7 linked regions of the Homo sapiens genome follow. The protein of the gene in region 1 purifies or fractionates together with the protein of each later gene. This does not show direct contact. Each region holds a gene or a part of one and is shown in the gene's direction. Other genes may lie near its edges. The genes, in order: VEGFD, ZNG1B, FCSK, ZBTB25, PTPRU, F10 and MR1.

Region 1 (3,500 bases):
CATTAGCAATTGTTCAGTTTCATCTCCAGATTTCTTAGATGAAGAAGCTGTGGCAAGCCAATTTCACAAACCCGATCTATGATCCTCATGCTCCCCACTCCTCTCACTCCCACAATTTTGCCTTGATTCAAACTTTATCGAAAAGTGAGAAATCACAGGTATGAGCTCACTGAGCTTCCCAGGCAGTCTTGCCATCTACAAACCCATGTCATTCTGTATTTTCCTCTTGTTTCTGACAGTGATCCTCTCATCTAGTCACACTACATCCACTTATCTCTGGCACTTATGTCAAAACAACCCCTCTAGGTCCTGCCTTAGCTCTCCTGCATATGCTTTTTCTTTCTTCCTGTCTGTTGCCTCTTTCCCCCAGCTTATAATTCTCCCGCTTTTATTAAAAACATGCACCCACAGACACACACTCACATCTGGATTCCCAAGTGCGATAACCTTGTAGATTCATATTTTCAGATCGTTCTTAGTCCACAGAATATAAAATTGATTGAATGATGGCAAACATCTGCAGATGACAATCATTTACAGAAATGGCACTAAAGCCATGAAGCTGAAGCTGCAGGACTTATGGATCTGGGCTAGAAGACAGGGGCCATCAAAAATTTAGCTTCAGTTGGAAATCGGCTCTTTTAGTGCACTACATCAGATCCATGAAAGAGGAAGGAAGAGTTACTGCTCATTGCTGCCTGGAGCTGTGACTTCTATGAAATTACTTAACGGGGCAAAGGAGGAAGCAGATACTTCCTTGCAACTAGGACGTGAGCTGAGCTGATCCCTGAATCATAAATACTCAACAAGATTCGGATTCAGGACCCAGGGTATTATGGGGTACAACCATAAAACTTCTAAATGTTGGAGAAAGAATAATGAGAAAGAAAAATGAATCTCTGAATGAAAATGGAACTACTAACCAAAATTCCAAATCACGTTAATATAATTATTACTAAGAATGACAGCAACAAAATGAATAATCAGTATATGTCATACCTATAAAGTTAAAATCTAAAATAATTTGAAGAAATACTTAAAAATATTTGCAACCCTCAAAGAGATAAAGAAATAATATTCATAAAATTGAAATGACAAACTAGGGGCAGGGCGCAGTGGCTCACGCCTGTAATCCCAGCACTGTGGGAGGCCGAGGTGGGTGGATCACAAAGTCAGGAGATCGAGACCATCCTGGCTAACACGGTGAAACCCTGTCTCTAATAAAAATACAAAAACAAAATTAGCCGGGCGTGGTGGTGGGCGCCTGTAGTCCCAGCTACTCAGGAGGCTGAGGAGGGAGAATGGCGTGAACCCGGGAGGTGGAGCTTGCAGTGAGCCGAGATCGCGCCACTGCACTCTAGCCTGGGCAACAGAATGAGACTGGGTCTCAAAACAAACAAACAAACAAACAAACAAACTAGGAAGAATATACAGAAATGTAACAGAAAGTAGATAGGAAGAAGAATGAAGTAGAAATGCTTGAAATTAGAAATACGGTGATTGAAATTAAAACCTTAACAAAGTAAACTCTAGACTCACAACAATTGGAGAGTTGGTGATTGGAAAGATGAACCAATTAATTTACCCATAACACATTAGAGAGAGGTGAAGAGGAAAAAATAGCTAAATATAAAAGCACATTTAAGAGACATGTAAGATGATTAAAAGCCTCCAACATTTTTCAAAAAAGAGAGTAGAGGCAATATTATAGGTGGAATAATGAAAATGATAATGGCTGAGAATATTAAAGAATTGAGAATAAAAAAGACAAGTGGCCTCAGATTGAAACTGCCATGAAGGTCTCTGTCTCAAATTCTCAACTCTGCTTTTGTAGTATGAAAGCAGCCGTAGACAATAAGTAAATGAATGGACATGGCTGTGTGTCAATACAACTTGATTTACAAAAACAGGCAGGCAGCAGGCTAAATTAGGCTGGGAGGTCATAGTTTGACAGCTCTTGATCTAAAGAATAACCATTGTTGGCCAGGCGCAGCGGCTCATGTCTGTAATCACAACACTTTGGGCGGCCAAGGCGAGCAGATCACTTGAGCCCAGGAGTTCAAGACCAGCCTGCGCAACATGGCGAAACCCCATCTCTACTAAAAGTACAAAAATTAGCCGGGCATGGTGGCAGGCTCCTGTAGTCCCAGCTACTTAGGAGGCTGAGGCAGGAGAATCGCTTGAACCTGGGAGGCTGAGGTTGCAGTGAGCGGAGATGGTGCCACTGCACTCCAGCCTGGATGACAGAGCCAGACTCGGTCTCGAAAATAAATAAAGAATAACCTTTGTTTACATTTTCATGTATATGTCTCCAGATGTTCCTCATATATCCATATAAGTATGTATATATGATGTACATAAGTGCATAAGTAAAAATACATAAGTAATTTTAAAAGAGGTTATATCATAGCTGAATCACACATGACTTAGACCACACTTGCTCTTCTGAGTACCCATTTTTGGACAACTCTCAGTGTCCACTAGCATGTCTAAAAAAAATTTCTCCTCCTAAAATGCTAATGCATGATGTAGATTTTAACTACAGCTTTTGAGGCTCAGTGGAGGAGAGTGTACATCACACTACCCAATGCAAAGCCTTTTAACAGCCCCTTTTGCTCATCTTTGTTTTCCTTCACTGTTCCTCGCCCTGCAGCAGGCAGCTGACATTCACCTTTCCCTTCCACCCTCCTCTCTCAGCACTGGTCCTTTGCCTCCTCCCTCATCCCAGCTCTACAAATGGCCTCAGCCTGCATATTCCAACCACCCAGCAAAACAAACATCTAGTAACTACCGGGTCAGCAAGAGAAAATCGGAGGCCCTAGCCATAGATAGATCACCTTATCATTTCTCCAGCACATTCCAGGAAGGATCTCAATTCGTTCTGTCCCAATATACCTCTACATCCTTTGTTTTGATGATCACATAGAATTCATTGTATGCATATATCATTATTTATATAACTAAGCCCCCAATTTTGAACAAGAGGCTACATACTGAAAATCTTTTATCTACCAAGTCTTTTTTTTCTTACAAACCCATCCAATACAGTTGCACTGTATCCGCCAATACAGTTCATGCAACTGTATGGAAAGCAAACTCTAGAAGAGTATTTGATAGCTCCATAAGAATATTAAACTCTTATACTTCTAGAGCGTAAAACCCCAGAAAAGTATTTTGTCAGAAAAAAATCATGTTTTTGAAATAGTAGGTTTTAAAAGAAAACAAAGAGAGTTAGAAGTAAGAAAATTCAGGTTATCAGGGGCTTGATATCTTTTTTTTGTGACTGTAGTCAGGTTACCCAGGCCTTTGTGGATCAATTTCTCAAACAAATAACAGAGATGAAAACAACTGTCAGTAGCTACTGTCACAAAAATAATATGATAAACATCTTTTCGTTTCCTATGGCTGCCATAACTAATTATCACAAACTTGGTGGCTTAAAATAACAGAAATGTATTTTCTCACAGCTCCAGAGTCCAGAATTCCAAAATGGAAGGGTC
Region 2 (4,209 bases), on another chromosome or scaffold:
TTCAGAGAAGGAAGGAAAAGTCAACCTTTTATTTGGCATCAGGATAGTAGTAAAACATTCTACTTGTGCATCAGATAGATTTTTATGACCTAACCTGGACAAGTAACTTAACTCTTGGTGCCTCATGTTTGAAAGAGGGATAACACTCTACAGGGTCATTCTAAGAATTAAATATTGCCAAAACACATGAAAAGATTCTCAACCTTGTTAGTAATCAAGGAAATGCAAATGAAGATCACAATGAAGTCTTCTTTTGTACTCAATTGATTGGTGAAAAATGCATGCCTGATAATATTGACATAACAGACCAATGAGATCTCTTATAATTTGCTGGGAAAATGTATCAATTTGTACAAACATTTTGAAAAATAATTGTGCATTTTCTTGTGAAGTAAAACATTTGAATAATCTAGGACCCAGCAATTCAGCTCTTACACAGACACTCAAGAGGAAGTTGCACACACATATGTCAGGAAAAATGTTCATAGCAGCCCTGTTCATAAGAGCAAAACCTGGAACAATTGAGAGGAAATGAATAAATTGCCGTGTAGCCACACAATAGAATACAAGACAGCAGTGATGCTGAAAAATATAGCAAGCCTCAGGAGTTTATATATTATATGGATAATTTTATGAAGCTCAAAAACACCCAAAATTAAACAACATATTCTGTAAGTACATACGTGGGATATGTGATAAAACTAAAAGGGAATGATCAGCAATCCAGAACCAATTCATGACTGTTGTTACTATCTTATGGGGCAGGCTGTGGATTGGAAGCAGGGGCGGTGCACATAGGTACGTGTAACTTACTGGTAATGCTTTTAGGTTAGGAATGAGGTCAAAGGAGTTCACTATAAATTTATATTAGAAAGAAGGGCTATCTATGGATTAGTGATGAGAGTGTCATGCACCAGCAAATACGATTAATGAACTTAGGTTACCTGAGGTCCAAATAAATAATGAGAAAAAAGTAAATAAAAGTGATGCATGAATACTAAAAATTTGGAATTACATATATAATATGTAATAATAAAAAAAGAAAAAATTGTCACTGGTTATCCTTCAGGTATAAAAATTACAATTAAAATTGTAATGTTATAACCTTCCATTCTTTCCCCTATGAATTAAAACTTTTTCTTTTAACGAGACTAAAAAATCAAGTTGATAAAATCTATGCCCTGTGGGAACTGGTTAGGTCAGGCTACCCACTCCAGATTTCCAGCAGGCTGGCCTCAGCTCTACCTACAGCCAGTAGCTTATTAAGGCTCTAGGCGCCAGTGACACCTTCAGACAGGTGGTTAGTGCGCCCTAAGGACTCTCCGCAGCGTCGCTCAGGTTCACAGAACACGCCCAGGGGCGTGTCCAGCTGTCGTCGGGGAGAGCCCACCTCCCCGGGGGGTGTGGCTAAGGGACGAGGCGCTTCTCGTCCAGAGCCCAGGTAATCCGGGCGGGATCAGCGAGCGTCGCGATGTGATGACGTCAGGCCCCGGGCAGGCCGGGAGTGGCGTGCTGGGCGTGCGCGGCTGCGGTACGGCGTGTTGGTCCCAGCGGTTCAGCTGAGGTAGGGACGTGCTGTAGGCCGGAATGTTACCGGCTGTTGGATCTGCGGATGAGGAGGAGGATCCTGCGGAGGAGGATTGTCCTGAATTGGTTCCCATGGAGACGACGCAAAGCGAGGAGGAGGAAAAGTCTGGCCTCGGCGCCAAGATCCCAGTCACAATTATCACCGGGTATTTAGGTAACTAACCATCCCAGTCACAAAATGGCGTGACCTCTGGTGTCATGGGATTTTGCGGGCTGCCGGTGCCTCTTCTCCTGAGGCATTGGGGCCTCATGATCAAGAGCAAATGTCTTCGAGGTAGGGGCTGGGTCACTTGCTTCTCGTATGGGTTGCCTCTCATCTTGGGAGTTAATGATGCCCGGCCCCCTCTGCGTTAGATTCCCATTTCTCAAGTGAGATGGAAAGTTAGCCTTTGAAACAAGGCTTTGACGCTAAGACACGCCCCCCTGATTGTCTCTGTGACCTCCTACCAAGTTATCTTACCTTCCTGACGCTCATCTACCTCACCTGAAAATGGAGAAATACCTGTCACCTGTGAAACAGGGCCGGAACCACCTACCTGTTGCCATTAAAGGATGTCCCGTCTGTAAAATGCCCGACACGTGGGGCTTTCGTCAGTAGATTCCCCTTCCCCACGAGCCAAAGTCCTCCAGCCAGTTGGCAGGGAGCGCTCCTATCTTAAACACTTTTTTTTTGAGGTCTGTTTGTAAACCACTGCGTAGGAAGTAAGAATAAAATCTCTGTCCTCCAAGACTATTTCTCAAACTAAGAACGTTTAGAGTGTACAGGGATACTCGAAACCACAAGTTTGTGAACTTGGTAGTTTCGTGAAGGGCGGTTTATGCACTTACACTAGAAGTTTCTTACTGGAAAAGTTTGAGAAATATATTTTTAAACCTTACAGTTAAATAGAAGGGCTAGAACAAATATATGACTGTATTAGAAGTTTGGAAAAAGTTAAGAAATGTAAATAAAATGATACTGTTTCCGGGAAATAATATTCCTAGTTGTTGCTAGAGACAGGTACAGACTTGGGCCACTTCGTGACCTTTTATGTAAAAATAAGAAATAACTGCTTTTGTTTTTTAAAAAACTTTGTAGACTGTAAGTTTATTCCCGTTTTTTGCTCGGAAGTAATTTTATAAAGGAATTTATTTTTGGCGTTTCCCCACAGTTATTCAGAGGCTGCTCTGCTGAGAAGATGAACAAATTTCTTGTCCAAAACAATGTATTTCAAACGTGCCGCTCGGGCCTTTCCCGTATTGCTCACTGGTAGGTCAGTAGATCACTGGAGAAAATGATCTGAAGCTCAGGAGTGAGAATTAATACCAGCAACCTTGTTGCTGAATCTAGGGATAGTTTCACTCCTATCCCTGACCATTTTCCCTTTCTGAAACACTGTTCTTTTGGCTTCTATTACATTTTTCTTCTGATTTTTCCACCTGCTTCTCTGGCTTCTTTTTAAGGCTCCCTCCTCCTTCCCCCTTTGTCCATCTTTAGCTACACACCTGTGTAATTTCTATTTTGATGTCCTACAACTTAAAACTTAACATGTCTGAAACTTCGTCTGTTACCATCCCCCCAAATCCTGCTTCTGTGATCCCAACCATTTGTAATACTCTAAAAGCCTCCTGACTAATCTGGAGTCTTGCTGCCCTTTAATTTATTCGTTGCATGTTAGCCTTAATGATCTTTATAAATGTCAATCCGACTGCGTCACACCTTTCAGTGGCATCCCTATGGGTTAAAATCCAAATTCCTTAACATGAATTACAAGGACCTGTAGCATCTGGATCTTGCCAACCTTTCCAGCCTGCCAAATTGGCCCCGCACAATGAACTAATGTTACTTCAAAGGTGCCAAGTGTTTTAGCCCCTTGGAATAGGTACTTTTTTACTGTGACTCCTCTGGCTAGATGTCCCTCTTAGGTTCTCCATAGCATTTTGTGCATCTCCTATTGAATATGTCACCCTGTGACATAATTGCCTCCTTATTCACTGAATTCCCCTCCATTCCCCCCTTCCCTTAATTTTTTTTTTTTTTTTTTTTTTTTTTTTGAGACGGAGTCTCGCTCTGTCGCCCAGGCTGGAGTGCAGTGGCGGGATCTCGGCTCACTGCAAGCTCCGCCTGCCGGGTTCACGCCATTCTCCTGCCTCAGCCTCCCAAGTAGCTGGGACTACAGGCGCCCGCCACTACGCCCGGCTAATTTTTTGTATTTTTAGTAGAGACGGGGTTTCACCGTTTTAGCCGGGATGGTCTCGATCTCCTGACCTCGTGATCCGCCCGCCTCGGCCTCCCAAAGTGCTGGGATTACAGGCGTGAGCCACCGCGCCCGGCCCCCTTAATATTTCTAAGCTCTATGAAGGCAGAGACTATCTTGTTCACTTTTTCACCAAGGCTCAGCATAAATCTGTAACGTATTAGAAACCTTCGAATGAATGAGCTATGTCTTAAAGTGTTTTTTTTTTCATAATATGGTTAAAAAGCCCTAGTAAATCTTCTCTTAGAAGATTTCTTACATTCACCCTTTCCTTTCAGTTTTCACATCACTGCCCTGTGAAACACTCATGTTCAGGGCCTCTGTCTCAGGCTTGGACTGGTTTTAAGATTTTCCTCATTGCCCTAAGTCTCTCCCATTCTATACT
Region 3 (4,292 bases), on another chromosome or scaffold:
ACCTTTCTCCAAAGATGATTTTGAGGGCTTCAATATTTAAAGGGGAAAGGTCAGATATTGGGGAAAGAGGAATTTTTTTTTTTTTTTTAGACAGGGCCTCACTGTGTTGCCCAGGCTGGAGTGCAGTGGTGCAATCTCAGCTCACTGCAACCTCTGCCTCCCGGGTTCAAGCGATTCTCCTTCCTCAGCCTCCCAAGCTGCTGGGACTACAGGTGCGCGCCACCACGCTCAGCTAATTTTTGTATTTTTAGTAGACGGGGTTTCACCATATTGGCCAGGCTGGTCTTCAACTCCCGACCTCATGATCCACCCGCCTCGGCCTCACCAAAGGGCTGGGACTACAGGTGCGAGCCACCGTGCCTGGCCTGAAAGAGGAAATTTTTAAAAGGCATGGGTAGGTAAGAGGCAAATGGCTGCATTCTTCTGAGTCTTTGATAAGCCTTTCACATGTTAGAGGGGGATAGAGGACTAGTCACTTATGCATTCATCTAGCTCAGTGAATATGCATTTTTACATAAGAAAAAATAAACATAGGGCAGAGGAAGCAATGAGATATGCATTTGTCTCAGGTGAGCTGAGAGATGACTTTCAGTGCTGTCAAAGCCCAGCACCTGTGAAGATAAGCTATAAATTTACATTGTCACTGAAATTCCACACAACTGTTTTAGGGTACAGATTTGGGGGCACACAAGGAATTTCCTAGTGGGCAAGTTGTGAGGGCCAGGCCATATCTAGCTTTTTTATCTTTGTAGTTATCTTGTTTAAGAATAAAATGGGAGGTAGGTTTCCCTGATGCAGTTCTCAGCTTGACTTTTCCCTTTGACTTAGTGACTTTGGGGTCCTGAGATTTATTTTCCTTTCACATAGTAACCTAGAGAGAGACACTCAGAGTATTTCCAATTGTCATCTATGACAATCAATGCTGCCATTCACAACTTTCCCAAAAGGTCCGCAGATCCCCTCCCCATTACGGAGTTGGAAAGTTTCTTCCCAAAGGATCCACGTGATGAAACCAGCGCAAACCTTTCCAACTGCAAATCGAATGGCAGCTGCTTCCGCTTGGGCAAAGCGTGATTTTTTTTTTTCCTCCATCAGTGGATTTTTCTCCAGAGGAAAGCGGAAGCTCCTGGTGCCGTCCAGAAGGTGTTAAAAAAAAAAAAAAAAAAAAACCCAAACGAGAAAACAAACAAAAAAGCTACACATTAACCTATTAACCTGGATCCCGGAGTCCCAGAAAACGGGCCTCTGTCTTTAAGGCGCTTCGGTCCTCTGGGAGTTGTAGTTTCGTGGGTCCTGGAGCGGCCCCCTTCCCATCTCCCTTCTGGATTGCAGCCCCGCTGCCCTTCAGGAAAGCGCTGCCCCGGCCACCCACGCTGGCCTATGCGGTGGCTCCGACCGTGTTTTTTGCCGGACGGGGGCTCGGCCTTGGGGGGGCGCGGAGGTGAAACTACACTTCCCGGAGTGCACCGCGAGGGTCGCGCAGCCTCGCGTTAAAGAGCCCGCTCCGCCGAGCGCCGGGCGACGGCAGGTACGTCAGTCCGCGAGGGTCGCCGCAGCGCCCCTTGCGCCCCTTGCGCCCCTTGCGCCCCCTCAGCTTTCCGGTGCACCCTCCCTGACTGGGAGCACCGAGTCGACCCGCGGGCCGCCCGGGTCCTGACAGGGAAGAGTCCCCGGGAGCTCTGCGGTGCCCCGGGAGCCCACAGGTGTTTCTACGCTCCCGCGTCCATTTGGCCTGGGTCTTCCAAGGGGAGCCCCGCGACCCGGCTGGTGCGGCCGGACCTGCTGGCAGCTGGGACCGGGAGGGATGCGGGCCTCAGAGGATCCTCACCCTGAGGCAGGTGGGGCCCTGGATGCCGGCGCTGCTCTGATTTTACTTTGAGGCCGCTTCTCCTCTCTCAGTTTACCCGGCCAGGGCTCAGTATTATGCACAAATCTCAATGATGTGCTCTTGGGTAATTTACAAAACGATTTTACTCCCAAGTAACTTCTTTCGGTCTGTTATTTAGAAGGCAGCAAGTCAGAGTCCTCCGTGAGCCTTTTTTTCCTCTTTAAAGTTCTAAAATGTGCAGTCCCTGACCCACCTGTCTTCAAAAGGTTCATATGAAGAGTTCTTAGTACTTTATTCTATCTCTGGCTCCCCAACCCTATCCCAGTCTTGGACAGCGTGGGGCTGAGGACACTAAAAAATATTTCAACTTGATCTCAGCAGATGAGGCTGTATTGAAAGTGGGTAGAGGCTGGGCGCCAAGGCTCATGCCTGTAATCCCAGCTACTTGGGAGGCTGAGGCGAGGGAATCGCTTGAACTCAGGAGATGGAGGTTGCAGTGAGCCAAGATCACGCCACTGCACTCCACCCTGGGCGACAGAGCGAGACTACGTCTCAAAAACAAAACAAAACAAACCAACAACAACAACAACAAAAGAACCTTAGGGCCTTAGGGCACACTTTCTCAGGACCTCTTGAGATTGTGTAACTCCAGCAAACTATTAATTAAAAAAAAAAAAAAGGCCGGGCGAGGTGGCTCACGCCTGTAATCCCAGCACTGTGGGAGGCGGAAGCAGGTAGATCACCTATGGTCAGGAGTTTGAGACCAGCGTGGCCAACATGGCAAAACCCCCTCTCTACTAATAATACAAAAATTAGCTGGGCGTGGTGGTGCACGTCTGTAATCCCAGCTACTTGGGAGGCTGAGGCAGGAGAATCACTTTAACCTGGGAGGCGGAGATTGCAGTGAGCCGAGATCGCGCCATTGCACTCCAGCCTGACGACAGAGGGAGACTGTCTCAAAAAAAAAAAAAGCCAGGCATGGTGGCTTACACCTGTAATCCCAACACTTAGGAAGGCCAAGGCGGGAGGATTACTTGAGTCCGGGAGTTGTAGGTCAGCCTGGGCAACAAAGGGAGGCCCCATCTCAACAAAAAATAAAAAACTAGCAGGACTCATGCATAGTCCCAGCTACTTGGGAGGCTGGGATGGGAGGATCGCTGGAGCCCGGGAGTTTGAGGCTGCAGTGAGCTGTGATCACATCACTGCGTTCCGCCCTCTGGTGACAGAGCCGGACCCTGTTTCTCAAAAACAAAACAAAACAAAACAAAAGCCTAGCCTGCCTGTGCTATTAAAGCAATGGCAAAAGCCAAAATTACTTTTGCACCAACCTAATAGCTATGTTTCTGCTTTTTAAACTACAGTTTTCTTGTCTAGAGCTTCAGTGAGATAAGAACCAATTCTTAGGACTGTTGGGTGGGTCATATGAAGTGACACTGATGTGCCTTTGCCATAGTGCCTGAAAAAGCACTCCATATGTATTAGCTACTTGTATCATTTTACCTTTTTTGTTAATCTCTCAGGGGATGTCCCTCAGCCTTGCTTGATTCCCGAGGCCTTCCCTGATTTTTTTCTTCTTCAGGACAGTCTTTAACTCAGAGAATGTTTGAGAGCTTCCAGTCCTTCCTCCTTCAGGGACAGGTTAAACTCTCCTGCTTCCTTGCCTGGCTGGAAGGATTATCATTCATTGAGCCACTGGTGTGTGCCACATACTTTACATTGTATTTCATGCTGAAAACAGTCCTGGGAGGTTGATGTCTTTGGCCTTAAATTTCAGATTAGGAAACTGAGGCTTAGAGAGGTTAAGTAACTGCTGGGCATGGTGGCTCACGCCTGTAATCCCAGCACTTTGGGAGGCCGAGGCAGGCGGATCCCAAGGTCAGGAGTTTGAGACCAGCCTGGCCAGCATGGTGAAACCCCGTCTCTACTAAAAATACAAAAAATTATCCAGGCATGGTGGTGCGCGCCTGTAGTCCCAGTTACTCGGGAGGCTGAGGCAGGAGAATGGCTTGAACCTGGGAGGCGGAGGTTGCAGTGAGCCAAGATTGCGCCACTGCACTCCAGCCTGGGTGACAGAGCGAGACTCCATCTTAAAAAAAAAAATAGATTAAGTAACTTGCTCAGGATCCTACAGGAAGCAGGAAGAGGTAGAGATGGGGACAGAGCCTTTTGGGACTGATACGCAACCCAGGACTGTTCCTCTGCCCCTGTCATTAGTAAGGGATACTCTCCCCACTCTGGCCATGACCTGTCACCTGCCCATGTCTCTCTATCACTATGCTGAGATGAAGACTGGGCTCAGAACTTCTGGGCCATTGGACTCTCTGGGGCATTTCTTTTTTTTCTTGAGACAGAGTCGCTCTGTTGCCCAGGCTAGAGTGCAGTGGCGTGATCTTGGCTCACTGCAGCCTCCGTCTCCTGGGTTCAAGTGATTCTCCTGCCTCAGCCTCCTGAGTAGCTGGGACTA
Region 4 (3,500 bases), on another chromosome or scaffold:
ACCACTGCACTCCAGCCTGGGTGACAGAGCGAGACTCCATCTCAAAAAAAAAAAAGTTCTTCCAGCTAAAACCTTTATTTTTTGACTACATCTCCACAAAATGGAGCTATACTGTTAGCCAGTATCCTAATAGTATAGTGCAGTTTGCATAATGATTACCAAGCTTGAAACTGGAAATGTCATATGCACTTTCGTGTGTATCAGGCAGATACTAAACATTTTCCCCTTGAGTCAGCTTAAAATTTTTCCTTCTTTTGAAATCTCACGCAGTTGTTTTCTGGAGAAAAATAGAGACTGTTTTAGTATTTGTTCTTATTAGCGTATCATCAGAACTCAGCACAGTCTGCCTTATAAGAAAACAAAAAATTTTTTTATTTATAACTCTTGAGATTGTTACTTCTTGCTCTTTCTGATTTCCCATCCGTAAAGTGGGTGTAAGCAATACTTACCTCACAGGGGTGTTGTGAGGATTTATATTAAACGTGTTAAGTTCTCTCAGTATTATTGATTAAAATCAACCATATAAACGACATTTATTCTGTAGCTAGACCTATTAACTTTAGTATTTCAGCCTATAAATTCTAAAATGTTCTTAAAAGCAGTAATGTACTATCTAATATTCAATAACTAATTGACAGAACTCATTGTTATTTTTTACAAATAACTAGAAACAATACTGTTGCTAGAATTCCTGTTCTACTGTAATTTAATCATCACTGTTTCTTTTTAGCCTTCAGTAAGGAGGATACTAGTTCTTTGGCATTATTGGGAATAAAACTTTGTCAATTTCAGCTTTATTGAAAGTTCTCCCAAATATATTGTTTTTGTTTACACAAAGGAAAAGGAACAAAAACAATAAATAAATACCTTTGTTTTTTTTTCTTTTTTGAGACGGAGTCTCGCTCTGTTGCCCAGGCTGGAGTGCAGTGGTGCGATCTCGGCTCACTGCAACCTCCGCCTCCCAGGTTCAAGCGATTCTTCTTCCTCAGCCTCCCGAGTAGCTGGAACTATAGGCACGCACCACCACACCCAGCTAATTTTTGTATTTTTAGTAGAGATGGGGTTTCATCATGTTGGCAAGGCTGGTTTCGAACTCCTGACCTTGTGATCTGCCTATCTCAGCCTCCCAAAGTGCTGGGATTACAGGTATGGGCCACTGGGCCCAGCCTATTTTTATTTCTTTGATGTAGGTGATCTAAATAGTAGATGAGGACAGGAAATGGGGTGAAGGTAATAATAGTATTATTAGAAAAGTCTTCACTGAAAATTGAAGGAAATACATATTAATCGTGGAAAAAGATAGTGTGAAAAATGTGTAATTTCGTTAACATTTATTTGTACAGGCACATTCTTGATGTTGTGAGTCAGATACTTGATAAATGTCCATTTTTTGTAGTAATTGATGTAAAAATGGGCCATGTGAAGAATTTTCATAATGTAATTTGTGTCTTTGTATATTTTGAACTACATATAGATTTGTGGCACTTAAATTATTAATTTTTGATTTCTTAAGAGTGAAGTCTGTAAATGATTTCTCTCTGCTGTACTTCTGTGTTTGTATGGTTGGACATTTTGAAAACTGGTGAGATTGCACAGTCCCAAACCTGGATGTCTTAAATACAAGGAATTACAAACTGTGATTTTTGTCTTGAAGACCTGGAAGAATTCATTGTGCTTCAGTATGTATTTGTACTGCACTTGATTAATTAGTTAAGTATTGGTCTGGTGCAATTGACATTAACTGTCATCAACTCCTCTATTTTGTGCTAAATAAAGTCATTTAGTCAGAATGGATCAAATATAAACTTATACTTTAAAATAAACTTAGATTATAAAAACTTGTTCAATAAAAAAGACCCACTGAAAAATCTTCAAAGTACATGTAACACATAGCTAATACAGGAGACCAAAATCAATAATACATTGTGTGGCTAAACTCATCCACCTAATGTACTGTGAATTTGCTTCAGAAACATTCTTTTAGAAAGTTGTGTATCTGCCGGGCATGGTGCCTCATGCCTGTAATCCCAGCACTTTGGGAGGCCAAGGCCCAGGAGTCCGAGACCAGCCTGGGCAATATAGTGAGACCTCATCTCTGCCAAAAATTTTGGCCAGGGGCAGTGGCTCACGCCTGTAATCCCAGCACTTTGGGAGGTCGAGGTGGGCGGATCACCAGAGGTCAGGAGTTCAAGATCAGCCTGGCTAACATGGCGAAACCCTGTCTCTACTAAAAATACAAAAATAAGCCAGGTGTGGTGGTGCGCGTCTGTAGTCCCAGCTACTTGGGAGGCTGAGACAGAATCATTTGAACCCGGGAGATGGAGGTTGCAGTGAGCCGAGATTGCGCCATTGCACTCCAGCCTGGGCGACAGAGTGAGACTCCGTCTCAAAAAAAAAAAGGCAGGGTGTGGTGGCTCACACCTGTAATCCCAGCACTTTGGGAGGCCAAGGCGGGCGGATTATGAAGTTAGGAGATCGAGACCATCCTGGACAACATGGTGAAACCCTGTCTCTAGTAAAACACAAAAAATTAGCTGGGTGTGGTGGCACGTGCCTGCAGTCCCAGCTACTAGGGGGGCAGAGGCAGAGGAATTGCTTGAACCCGGGAGGCGGAGGTTGCAGTGAGCCGAGATTGCGCCACTGCACTCCAGCCTGGCGACAGAGCAAGAAACAATGAATTTCATATATTTTATCAAGACAAATTAATGTGACTTAATCAAAAACAAGTTTATTAGCTTAGCTTATAGAATGTGTTCTTATTTTACATCAGTGTTTGCCAAATGTTGTGTTCCTAGTGTTGAGGCAAGTAGTCTTTGTACTGGGTAACATTTTGGAGGTGTGATGCAAAAATGCATTTGTGGACCTAATTCTTACCGACCATAATCTGTGTTAATCGAAAATTGACGTCCTAATCAAATGCTTTCCAACTGCTGTCTCTGGAAAGAAAGGTAGTATTTCGTCATTTCCCAGAAGTTTCTTGCTTTGCTTCTTCTTTTTTTTTTTTTTTTTTTTTTTTGAGATGGAGTCTTGCTCTGTTGCCCAGGCTGGAGTACAGTGGAGTGATCTCGGCTCACTGCAACCTTCACATCCCAGGTTCAAGCTATTCTCCTGCCTCAGCCTCCCGAGTAGCTGAGATTACAGGTTCCCACCACTACACTCGGCTAATTTTTTGTATTTCTAGTAGAGACGGAGTTTCACCATGTTGGCCAGGCTGGTCTCGAACTCCTGACCTTGTGATTCACCTGCCTCAGCCTCCCAAAGTGCTGGGATTACAGGCGTGAGCCACCGCGCCCAGCTGCTTCTTTCTTCTCTATTTACAGTCTACTGTATCGCCTTTTGCCCCCAGTAACATGATCCACAATAGTAGTTCTCAACTGAGGTATATTAGTCAGGATTCTCCAGAAAAAGAAAGAAACAACAGGTAGAACTGAGAGAGAGAAAGAGATTGATTGATTATAAGGAATAGGTTCATGTAATTATGGAGGCTGAGAAGTCCCAAG
Region 5 (3,500 bases), on another chromosome or scaffold:
GTTGGCCAGGCTGGTCTCGAACTCCTGACCTCAAGTGATCCGCCTGCCTCGGCCTCCCAAAGGTGCTGGGATTACATGCGTGAGCCACCGTGCCCAGCCAGTTGTCCTTCTTAAGAGCTACACTCGAATGCTATCACAGGTCCAAAGCCTTTCCCTGGGTTCCTACAGATTCCAGTTACCACTAAGCTCCTTGGTTTATGGCTTTGTCTTGCTGCCGCACGTGCACAGTTTTCTGTTCTGCACAGCATTGGCCTAGATTCAAAATTCAGCTCCTTCTTTACTTTCTGCTTTTCTCTGCCTTAGGACTTCAGCTTCCCCATAGTGGTTTATCAAGGTATTTTCCCAAGCAAAGATCATTCTCTTCCTAAATGACACTCCTGTGCCTGCCATTAACAGTATACATTTACACAAGAAAAACAAAACAAAGCCATGCCTGCAAGTGTTAATGCTAAAATGTTAACAGTATCTCTGGGTGATACAATTGTAGATGCCATTAATTTTCTTTAAGCTCATTTTGATTTTCTACATTGAACATGTCATTTATGTAATTAGAAATTTTTAGACGAGAAAATATCGCCACCCATAATCCCAATACCGCAATGCAATTGCTGTTTTCATTTCTCTGGCCCATGTGCATATTTTCTGAAAACTACCCAACTGGAACAAAATTGGAGCCTTCAAACGTATTTCTCTCCTGAATGCAACCTACACAGTAATGAAAATGCCAGCTATCCATTTTGAGTACTTAGTAATAGGTTGAACCATATGCAATTGCTGATGTTTGCCTTGGGGCTTTATGTACATCACATCATTTGAGTCCTGGCTTGAGAGGGGTTATATCATTCCCACTTCACAGCTGAGTTAAGTAAGGTGCAGAGAGGCTGAATAGTCCATGAGAACCAGGTAGGAAGCGGCAAGGCTGGAATTTAAACCCAGGTGTCTGGCACCAAAGCCCACTTTCCCCTGGCCCCTGCTGCCTTTCCCTTGCAGTGCCCAGTGGGATTGCAGCCGAGTCCCTGACCTTCACTCCACTGGAGGACATGATCTTCCTCAAGTGGGAGGAGCCCCAGGAGCCCAATGGTCTCATCACCCAGTATGAGGTGGGTTTGGGACCCTATTACAGTGGGGGACCCTGGTGGAAGGTGAGAGGTGGCCCTCTTTCTCTCTGCTGCTACAGTAGGAGGTGCATGGGAGGACAGATGTGATTGTCATAGTTTCTTCAACTATGGCCAGGTCTGTGCCCTGTGTATTCTAGAGGAGGGTCCTGAAGGCAGGAGGGAGAGCCGAAGATGACTAGAAGCCTGGCTTGATGGCATCCATAGTCTCCTTTGCTTAGCCTTATCTCTCACTTCCCTGGGACATGGTGGGTGGAGGCTGCTGGTCAGGGATGCTCTGACCATCCAGTGCCCACCTGCCTGCCAATCCTGCCCCCAGATCAGCTACCAGAGCATCGAGTCATCAGACCCGGCAGTGAACGTGCCAGGCCCACGACGTACCATCTCCAAGCTCCGCAATGAGACCTACCATGTCTTCTCCAACCTGCACCCAGGCACCACCTACCTGTTCTCCGTGCGGGCCCGCACAGGCAAAGGCTTCGGCCAGGCGGCACTCACTGAGATAACCACTAACATCTCTGGTGAGCCCCACCTGACCCGGCCCAGCCTCTTCGGAGGTGGCCCAGAATCCCAGGGTTCCATGGGCAGAAGGGAAATGGGGGGCATCCTGGGGGTAGTTACAGAGGGCCCCTGCTGAGATAAATATGCCATTTAGGAGTTAAAGTCAGGCTCAGGGAGGATGAAGTCAGAGGAGTCAGGAGACTGGTCAGTGGAATCAGAAGATTGAGGTTGGGGCTGGTGCCTGAGGTCAGGGGCCAGGGTAGCTCAGGTCATGTCAGCAGGAACAAAGAGGCTAAGGCTGAAGTAGGGGAGATCTGAGGACTGTGGTCAAGGAGGCTGGAAGCCTGGTCTTCCTGGTCCAGTGGCCAAGCTCCAGCTTGTGACCCTGTCCCCTTCTCCAGCTCCCAGCTTTGATTATGCCGACATGCCGTCACCCCTGGGCGAGTCTGAGAACACCATCACCGTGCTGCTGAGGCCGGCACAGGGCCGCGGTGCGCCCATCAGGTGGGAAAGCGGGGACGGAGGGGTGGGAGTCCAGGGCCTTAGGAAAGAGGCCCCTCCTCTGACCCAGAGCCCCATCCCAGGCCAGCTCACCCTTTTCCTCCCTCAGTCTCCCACGCAGGGCTTGGAGTGTCTGGAGGAGATTGTTCTGTGATGCTTGGCAGGCAAGAAGCCTGCAGTCCCTCCCCTCTGAGGCCATGGGTCTCAGATGGTGACTGTCAGGAGGACCCTGGATAGGTCCAGCCTGGAGAGGGGACTGTCCAGGCCTGTCCAGGGGGCCTTTCCTCAGACACCTTGGAGAAGTGAAACTCTGGGGGCCTTATATCATCCCAGCCTTTTCCTGGAAGCACAGAGATGGGCTTTCTAGAAGGCTGGGGCAGCCAGCCAGATAGGGCCATCTCTCTGGAATGGCTAGGAGCTTGGCTTCTCCACCTCCTCTCCCCAGAGGAAGCTGGGCTTGCTGGTGCCGTGGTGGCTGCCTCTGCTGGGGAGAGGGTGCTGGAGACAAGACTGTGTGTGTGTGTGTGTGTGTGTGTGTGTGTATGTGGGATGTGAAACTGGGTGTGTCTTTGTGATAAAGACATGGGATGTGTGGTGTGAGTGTGTGTGAGAGGCGTATATGGGAGACATAAGTGTGCATGTGTGTGAGAGTGTGAGGGTGTTTGTGCAACTGTGTGCACGTACTGTTAGCCAGACCCCGTGCTAGGGGCTTTATCTGCATGAAGCCATTTATCCTCATGGCAGCCCTGTGGCATGGGTATTATTACCTTCATTTTACATATCGGGAAACTGACTCAGAGCCTGAATCACTTGCCCTCAAGGCCACACAGCTAGTAAGTGGTGGAGCTGGGATTTGGAAGCCAGGTCTATCTGCTGTGCCTGTACCTTTTCTAGAAGTTATAGAGCCTCCCTGCCCTTCTGGTCCACCCCTTCCTTCCACGAAGGTACATGCTCTGGGAGAGGGTGACAGCCTTTAGGTGGGGGGGGTGTGAGGGTCCTAGTCAGTTCCCTAGGAAGAGAGTGGGCTGCCTGGGTGACCATGGCAGTCCCTCACCTCCTCACTCCCCACTGTATCCTCTCCTCTTCTGCTTTGTCTTCCCTGTATTTGCCACTGCAAATCCTGCCCTGGGCTGATTCCCAGACCCTCAGGGAAGACCCAGGAAAAAGTCACGGGGTCTGCAGGGCCTTTTGCCTGTTGCTAGAGCCTCAGGGCCCTTATGCCACTGAGTCTGGGATGGGTTGGGAACCCTTTCTTTCTTGTCCTCTTGAGGGATCCTGTGAGCAGCACTGGTCAGGGTCCCTCAGGATGATGATTGCAAGGCTAGGTGGGGGCAGGCTTGGTGGGAGGGGAGCGGCAAGATGGCTGCATGACCCTGGGCATGT
Region 6 (3,500 bases), on another chromosome or scaffold:
CTGTGCTATTCCAGACGCTCTCCTGTGCCTCCAGTTGTTTGCGTGCGCCATTCCTTCTGCCTGAAAACTTTTTTTTCTTCAATGTTTCATTAGGAAAAGTTTTCCAACACACAGCACACTGGAAAGAATTTTGCAGGGAGTCGCACACGCCCAGCACTTGGGTTCTCCTGTTGGCATCCTCCGGCCAGATGCATTCATCCCATTTCGCCCGGCCCGTTTGTCTCTGTCCATCCGTCAAGCTTTCTTGACTTCTTGGTGCATTTTCAGGCAAACCGCAGACGCCAACACTCCCCTCGCTGCCTGGGTTGCTGCCTGGCGTCCATTGTTCACAGGCGGTCACCTGAGGGGAGGCCAACGCTCGGACAGCTGCGCTCACCTGCAGATCCGACCCCTGCCGACGACGTGGGGCCTCGCCCTGCAAGCCCGCTGCCCCTCCGGGTGCCCCTGCGCTCTGCCTCCCGGCTCTCTGACTCTTCTCCCTCAGGGTGAGCTGTGCAGGCTATGGGGAGCCTCTCTCTGTGCTGAAGGCCCCGGCCGTCCTCTTTCTTTCAGGGCCCTACCCCTGTGGGAAACAGACCCTGGAACGCAGGAAGAGGTCAGTGGCCCAGGCCACCAGCAGCAGCGGGGAGGCCCCTGACAGCATCACATGGAAGCCATATGATGCAGCCGACCTGGACCCCACCGAGAACCCCTTCGACCTGCTTGACTTCAACCAGACGCAGCCTGAGAGGGGCGACAACAACCTCACCAGGATCGTGGGAGGCCAGGAATGCAAGGACGGGGAGTGTCCCTGGCAGGTAACAGTAGGATGTCCCCTCGGGCCTGCTGGAGAGACCACCTGTCCCGCTGTGCACCTCGGGGAGGCCAGCCTGACACTTGGAATAGCAATCCGGGAAGGAACTGTTCCGAACTAGGACAGAGGGGCTCCGCCACCCAAGCCTGCCTGCCTGTCCCCTCCCTCCGGGCAGCCAAGGAGGCTGTGAGCTCCACAGGGAAGTGGCCGGGGCTGAGGGAGAGGCTGGGCCCAGGCAACGCCCCCCTCAGCCCCTTCCCACTGGGCATTTCCATGGCTGCCCGTGGCATGCCCAGGACGATGCTGTCCTGTGAAACAGAAGAGAGGGAGAAGGCGCAGCCACACGCTCAAGTGTCCTCAAACCTCCCCTACACCAGGAGACAAGGCTAAAGCCAGGGAGCCACCCACACTGCAGGGGCATCAGCGGGCAGGAGGACGGTGCCGGGTGGGCAAGGCCTCCATCTGCTCTTCTGTTTGACGGGAGGCAGAAAGAGTTGGTGTCCTCGCTTCATTTCTAATTTTGGAATTTTTTTACCCAAACACCTAAATCCTATGGAGGTAGATAGTACCTTAGAGAAAAACACATCTACTTATTTTCAAAGGTAAAAAAGAAAATCACTCTTTGAGGCTTTTTTGTTAAGAGACAGTACCTTGCTCTGTTGCCCAGGCTGGAGTGCAGTGTCGCGATCTCGGCTCACTGCAACCTCCACCTCCTGGGTTCAAGCGATTCTCATGCCTCAGACTCCCAAGTAGCTGGAATTACGGGCGCCCGCTACTTACGCCTGGCTAATTTTTTTTTTTTTTTGAGACGGAGTCTCACTCTGTCGCCCAGGCTGGAGTGCAGTGGCGCGATCTCGGCTCACTGCAACCTCCACCTCCCAGGTTCATGTCATTCTCCTGCTTCAGCCTCCCGAGTAGCTGGGACTACAGGCGCCTGCCACCACGCCCAGCTAATTTTTTTTGTATTTTTAGTAGAGACGGGGTTTCACCGTGTTAGCCAGGATGGTCTCCATCTCCTGACCTGGTGATCTGCCCACCTCAGCCTCCCAAAGTGCTGGGATTACAGGCGTGAGACAATGTGCCCGGCCATGCCTGGCTAATTTTTTTATTTTTAATAGAGACAGGAATTTCACCATGTTGGCCAGGCTGGTCTCAAACTCCAGGCCTCATGTGATCCACCCTCCTCAGCCACCCAAAGTGCTGGAGTTACAGGTGTGAGCCACTATACCAGGTCCTAATCTTTGATTGTTGATTTGGACTAATGCTGCCAGATTAAACAAATAAAAGCACAATACTTTCAATTAAATTTCAATTTCACATAAACTAGAAATACATTAAACAAAAGCACAATACTTTCAATTAAATTTCAATTTCACATAAACTAGAAATACTTTCAGTGTAAGTATGTTCCAAGTATCGCATGAAGCATACATATGCGAAAAATTATTTGCTGTTTATCTGATTCAAGTCAAACTAGGTGTATTAGTCAGTTTTCACACTGCTGACACATACATACCCGAGACTGGGTAATTTATAAAGAAAAAGAGGTTGAATGAACTCACAGTTCCACGTGGCTGGGGAGGCCTCACCGTCACGGTGGAAGGCGCAAGGCACGTCTTACATGGCGGCAGCAAGACAGAGAATGAGAGAACAAGCAAAAGGGGTTTCCCCTTAGAAAACCATCAGCTCTTGTGAGACTTATTCACTTCCACCAGAACAGCATGGGGAAACCGCCCTCACGATTCAGTTACCTCCCACCAGGTCCCTCCCACAACACACGGGAAATATGGGAGCTACAGTTTGAGATGAGATTTGGGTGGGGACACAGCCAAACCTTGTTGCTGGGCATCCTGTATTTTCTCTGGCAATCCTCACTTGGACTTGAATTTTCAGCGCCCAAAACCAGAATGTCCTCTCCTACAAGCAAGAATCTCAGAGCTGCCAGCGCCCCCATGAATTCCCCCAGGTCTTCCCCCACCCCAGACCGTGTGGCGGGTGAGCCTCTGTCTAACTATAAAGAGCCAAGCGAGAGAGGGATGCACTGAGGTGGCTCTGCAATGCATGTTTGTTGAGGGCCTTCTGTGTGTCAGGCACTGAGCCGGGTGCTGTGTAGGTGGGATATGAAACCATGAAGCCTCTCTGTGACCAATACACAGAAATCTCAACCTAGTTAGGGAGCTGAGACCGAAATCCTCCCAGTCCCAGGCACTGTGTGGTTGGGGCAAGAACCTCGATGCAGGAGACCCCACCGAGGATGAGCAGGAAAAGCCTCTTGTGGGGCTGAGGAGCTGGACTTGGAGCTGCAGGCGGGGTTTTGGAGGGGTTCCTGGGCTGGGGGACCAGGGTGGGGCGCCCTGGAGGGCTCACTGGAGGGGCCCTCGCCCAGCCTGTTGAGGTTTGCGATTCTTGTTTCCTGGTTCGAGTCTTGGCAAGTGGGCCTCATCTGCATCTTTAGGAAGAATGGTTGGTGTTCGTGTCTTAGAAAGCCTGACTTTCCCTCATGTAAGCTGGATGATGAGTTGACAAATTATGCAAAAAAGAGGCAAAAACATGACCCCTTTTCTAGCCATGAATGTTTTAAGAAATGTTTTAAGACTCGGTATTGTCAGTAGTTTCATTGGTCTGTACATGTGCCCAGCCACTATCACAGGACGGGAAACTCCCCAGAGAAAAGAAAACCAAAATATGCCCGGGCTCCAAACTTGCA
Region 7 (3,500 bases), on another chromosome or scaffold:
TCAACTCCAATTCAGGTGATAACTGTACAAAAGCATGTTGTTAGATCAAAGTAAAACCAACCCTTTTACTAGAAAATCAGCTCAGAGGCCGGGCGTGGTGGCTTACAACTTGTAATCCCAGCACTTTGAGAGGCCGAGGCAGGCGGATCACTTGAGGTCAGGAGTTCGAGATCAGCCTGGCCAACATGGTGAAACCCTGCCTCTACTGAAAATATTAAAAAAAAAAAAATTAGCTGGGCGTGGTGGCACATGCCTGTAATCTCAGCTACTCAGGAGGCTGAGACAGGAGAATCGCTTGAACCTGGGAGGCGGAGGTTGCCGTGAGCAAAGATCGCTCCATTGCACTCCAGCCTGGGCAGCAAGAGCGAGACTCTGTCTCAAAAAAGAAAAAAGAAAAGAAAAGAAAAGAAAATCAGCTCAGAGAGTTAATGGGTTGTTAATGTTTTCTTTATAGATAAAGTACAGCACTAATCCTAATCCAATAAATGATAGTGAAACAAACAAAAAATTTTTTTACAATGACATCCCTCTCTCAATAATTATACAGACTGTGAGTTCCTGCTTTTTATCTTATAGAGTTTACAAATTTGAGCTAAAGTTTGTCAAGTACTAAGAGAATCTTGACAAAGCAAGCTAAAACTGTCGATGCCTGTTTCTCAGATTTTGCTGAACACTGCATACTTTATTTTTGAGCTGTGAGGAAACATTCTTGTAATCTGACTAAAAACCCCTTTCCTTTCAGAGCAAAATGGAGCCATCTACCTTCCAACACCAGATCGATGATTGCAGATCCCTCTTTTCCAGTTCTCCTTCCTCTAGGAGCCATGTTATCCTCTGTCCCCCATAGAGTCAAGCCTAGTGCTTGAAGGTCCTGACGACACCCACAACATACATGAGAGTAATGGGATTGAGCATTTATGGCAGCAACAGAGGAGCCACAAAATGTTCTTTGTTCTTTGGCTCCAAAAAGACTGTCAGCTTTCAGTCTCTTTTGATGGACTGTTTTATCAGAGTTGACTTTAAATACAGCTTGTCTCATGACACAACGCTTCCCTACATTCTATTTGTCAATGATGATTTGCAACTAGTTGGAGATTCTCAGAGCAGGAAGGAATCTTTTCAACCAGAGCAGGAACTGTCTTCTGCAATGCCTTGGACTTGAGCCTCCAGCCTCCACTTGAACACCATGTGAAGGGAACCTCAGTACTTCATAAAATGGCCTTTCTCATTCATCTTTCATGGGAACATTTATTGTACAAGCGCTTTGAATATCATGGGCACCATGACTGTGACCCTACAGGTAGGATTGGATCACTCCATGAGAGTAGCCGGCAGGTTTCTACAATGGCCTGGGAATGGACTGATTATTTTTATACATTTTCTGGCCTGAGAGAAAGCCAAAGTCCCCTGCTGTTCACAGCAACCCTGCCTGGGAGCTTGGAATCTTGGTAATCTGCCCGGTTGGATCTATGGAGGTAGTCTCACCCTTTTTGTCTTTTGTGGGAAATTAAGAGAAATAATTATCAGACATATCATCACCTCCAGTGGAACTACAGAGACCTGGACCCAGCTGCACTATTTTAATGTAAAAATAACAGTATGGCCAGGTGCAGTGGCTCACGCCTGTAATCCCATCACTTTGAGCAGCCAAGGCGGGCGGATCACGAGGTCAGGAGATTAAGACCATCCTGGCCAATATGGTGAAACCCTGTCTCTACTAAAATACAAAAAATTAGCTGGGCATGGTGTTGCGTGCCTGTAGTCCCAGCTACTTGGGAGGCTGAGACAGGGGAATTGCTTGAACCCGGGAGGCAGAGATTGCAGTGAGCCGAGATCACGCCACTGCACTCCAGCCTGGCGACAGAGTGAGACTCTATCTCAAAATAATAATAATAATAATAATAATAATAATAATAATAATAACAGTATATTTGGTGTCAGGAGAGGGCTCAATTCTCATTTCTGCCTTTCCTGTGCTGGCTCATGGTAGCTGGGCATGACTTGCCTTCCTACATAGGTTGTCTTCATACATATGCACTGGGAATCAATAAAAGCCCATGGTGAGAATGAACATCCCCTTAATGTTCCTTACTATCCCCAACCCCTGAGGCCTCACCTACTGCCCTGCCATGTGGAGCTACTTGCCCTGGGGCTGCCAGTCACACATTCCTCGGTCCTACTTCTCTGACCCCGTTTGACTCTGCACCTGAGCCCTAATGCTTACTTCAGTGACCTGAACTTTGACAAGTGGCTTTTGTCCTGCACCTCAGGTTTGACCTCTGCTCTCCCTTGACCTTGACTGTGACATTTGACCTTTGGCTTTAATCATTACAGCCTCAGATAAAGGTACCTTCAGCCCGGGCACAGTGGCTCACGCCTGTAATCCTAGCACTTTGGGAGGCTGAGGCAGGCGGATTCCCTGAGCTCAGGAGTTCAAGACCAGCCTGGGCAACACGGTGAAACCCTGTCTCTACTAAAATACAAATAATTAGCTGGGCATGGTGGCATGTGCCTATAGTCCCAGCTACTTGGGAGGCTAAGGCAGGAGAATCACTTGAATCTATAAGGCAGAGGTGGCAGTGAGCCGAGATCACACCACTGCACTCCAGCCTGGGCAACGGAGCAAGACTCTGTCTCCAAAAAAAAAAAGAAAGATACCCTCAGTGTGCCAGGCCTCTAAGAGCTCACCTGCCAGGCTTCCTCCTTGCTCCACTGTCCCATGTAATTCCATATATGAAGCTACCACTGTACATCTCTCTTTTCCGGTGCCTGTTGAGTTGCATAGAAGCACAGTTGTGTTTATTTTGTTTTTAGGGTTGCCATGGGCAATTTCCGTGCCACTTTTAAGCAGTGTTGCACTGTGAAGAGAATGTAGGCAAGTTTATTTCTGGAATGGTTTCTTCTTACAATCAGAATAGTTAGGATGTAATATATTTTTGGGTGGGCATTTAAAGTGAAAAGGTACATATTTACATAGACACAGGTGATAATGTATCTATGTAAATGCCTTTTGATTCTGCAACTGCAGGATACTCTCATCAAAGACACAGATAAAAAGCCTCTGTGTTTCCAAGGCCTTGCCCTACACCTAACACATAATATGTCCAAATGGATGAAGAGGAGGCAAGGACAAGGATGTGATGACAAAACATTCTGTTATGCACTTGTAGCATTTATGTTTCTTCCTGGGGGATTTTATAATACTAAAAGAATCATAATATAAAGAGATGATTAAAAAAAAAATACTGCCGGGCACGGTGGCTCATGCCTGTAATCCCAGCATTTTGGGAGGCCGAGGTGGGCAGATCACCTGAGGTCGGGAGTTCGAGACCAGCCTGACCAACATGGAGAAACCCTGTCTCTACCAAACATACAAAATTAGCCGGGGATGGTGGCGCATGCCTATAATCCCAGCTACTCGGGAGTCTGAGGCAGAAGAACCGCTTGAACCCGGGAGGCAGAGGTTGTGGTGAGCCGAGATCGCGCCATCGCACTCTAGC

What was found.
Region 2: the proteins of VEGFD (region 1) and ZNG1B purify together in Homo sapiens (affinity purification with mass spectrometry; one large-scale study listed by BioGRID and IntAct). This does not show direct contact.
Region 3: the proteins of VEGFD (region 1) and FCSK purify together in Homo sapiens (affinity purification with mass spectrometry; one large-scale study listed by BioGRID and IntAct). This does not show direct contact.
Region 4: the proteins of VEGFD (region 1) and ZBTB25 purify together in Homo sapiens (affinity purification with a luminescence readout, with the first as the bait; one study listed by BioGRID). This does not show direct contact.
Region 5: the proteins of VEGFD (region 1) and PTPRU purify together in Homo sapiens (affinity purification with mass spectrometry; one large-scale study listed by BioGRID and IntAct). This does not show direct contact.
Region 6: the proteins of VEGFD (region 1) and F10 purify together in Homo sapiens (affinity purification with mass spectrometry; one large-scale study listed by BioGRID and IntAct). This does not show direct contact.
Region 7: the proteins of VEGFD (region 1) and MR1 purify together in Homo sapiens (affinity purification with mass spectrometry; one large-scale study listed by BioGRID and IntAct). This does not show direct contact.

Annotation. Positions count from the first base shown.
Region 1 is NC_000023.11:15,363,914-15,367,413, reverse strand, and holds part of VEGFD (vascular endothelial growth factor D preproprotein), read left to right. Parts: intron 1-3,500. UniProt on the Homo sapiens protein: Growth factor active in angiogenesis, lymphangiogenesis and endothelial cell growth, stimulating their proliferation and migration and also has effects on the permeability of blood vessels.
Region 2 is NC_000002.12:113,436,282-113,440,490, forward strand, and holds the start of ZNG1B (zinc-regulated GTPase metalloprotein activator 1B), read left to right. Parts: upstream 1-1,409; 5' UTR 1,410-1,587; coding exon 1,588-1,741; intron 1,742-2,738; exon of another isoform or gene 2,739-2,790; coding exon of another isoform or gene 2,791-2,836; intron 2,837-4,209. UniProt on the Homo sapiens protein: Zinc chaperone that directly transfers zinc cofactor to target metalloproteins, thereby activating them.
Region 3 is NC_000016.10:70,453,103-70,457,394, forward strand, and holds the start of FCSK (L-fucose kinase), read left to right. Parts: upstream 1-1,492; 5' UTR 1,493-1,528; intron 1,529-4,292.
Region 4 is NC_000014.9:64,479,839-64,483,338, reverse strand, and holds part of ZBTB25 (zinc finger and BTB domain-containing protein 25), read left to right. Parts: 3' UTR 1-3,500. UniProt on the Homo sapiens protein: May be involved in transcriptional regulation.
Region 5 is NC_000001.11:29,278,022-29,281,521, forward strand, and holds part of PTPRU (receptor-type tyrosine-protein phosphatase U isoform 1 precursor), read left to right. Parts: intron 1-990; coding exon 991-1,100; intron 1,101-1,434; coding exon 1,435-1,636; intron 1,637-2,017; coding exon 2,018-2,120; intron 2,121-3,500.
Region 6 is NC_000013.11:113,143,299-113,146,798, forward strand, and holds part of F10 (coagulation factor X isoform 1 preproprotein), read left to right. Parts: intron 1-552; coding exon 553-797; intron 798-3,500. UniProt on the Homo sapiens protein: Factor Xa is a vitamin K-dependent glycoprotein that converts prothrombin to thrombin in the presence of factor Va, calcium and phospholipid during blood clotting.
Region 7 is NC_000001.11:181,054,483-181,057,982, forward strand, and holds part of MR1 (major histocompatibility complex class I-related protein 1 isoform 1 precursor), read left to right. Parts: intron 1-742; coding exon 743-783; 3' UTR 784-3,500. UniProt on the Homo sapiens protein: Antigen-presenting molecule specialized in displaying microbial pyrimidine-based metabolites to alpha-beta T cell receptors (TCR) on innate-type mucosal-associated invariant T (MAIT) cells.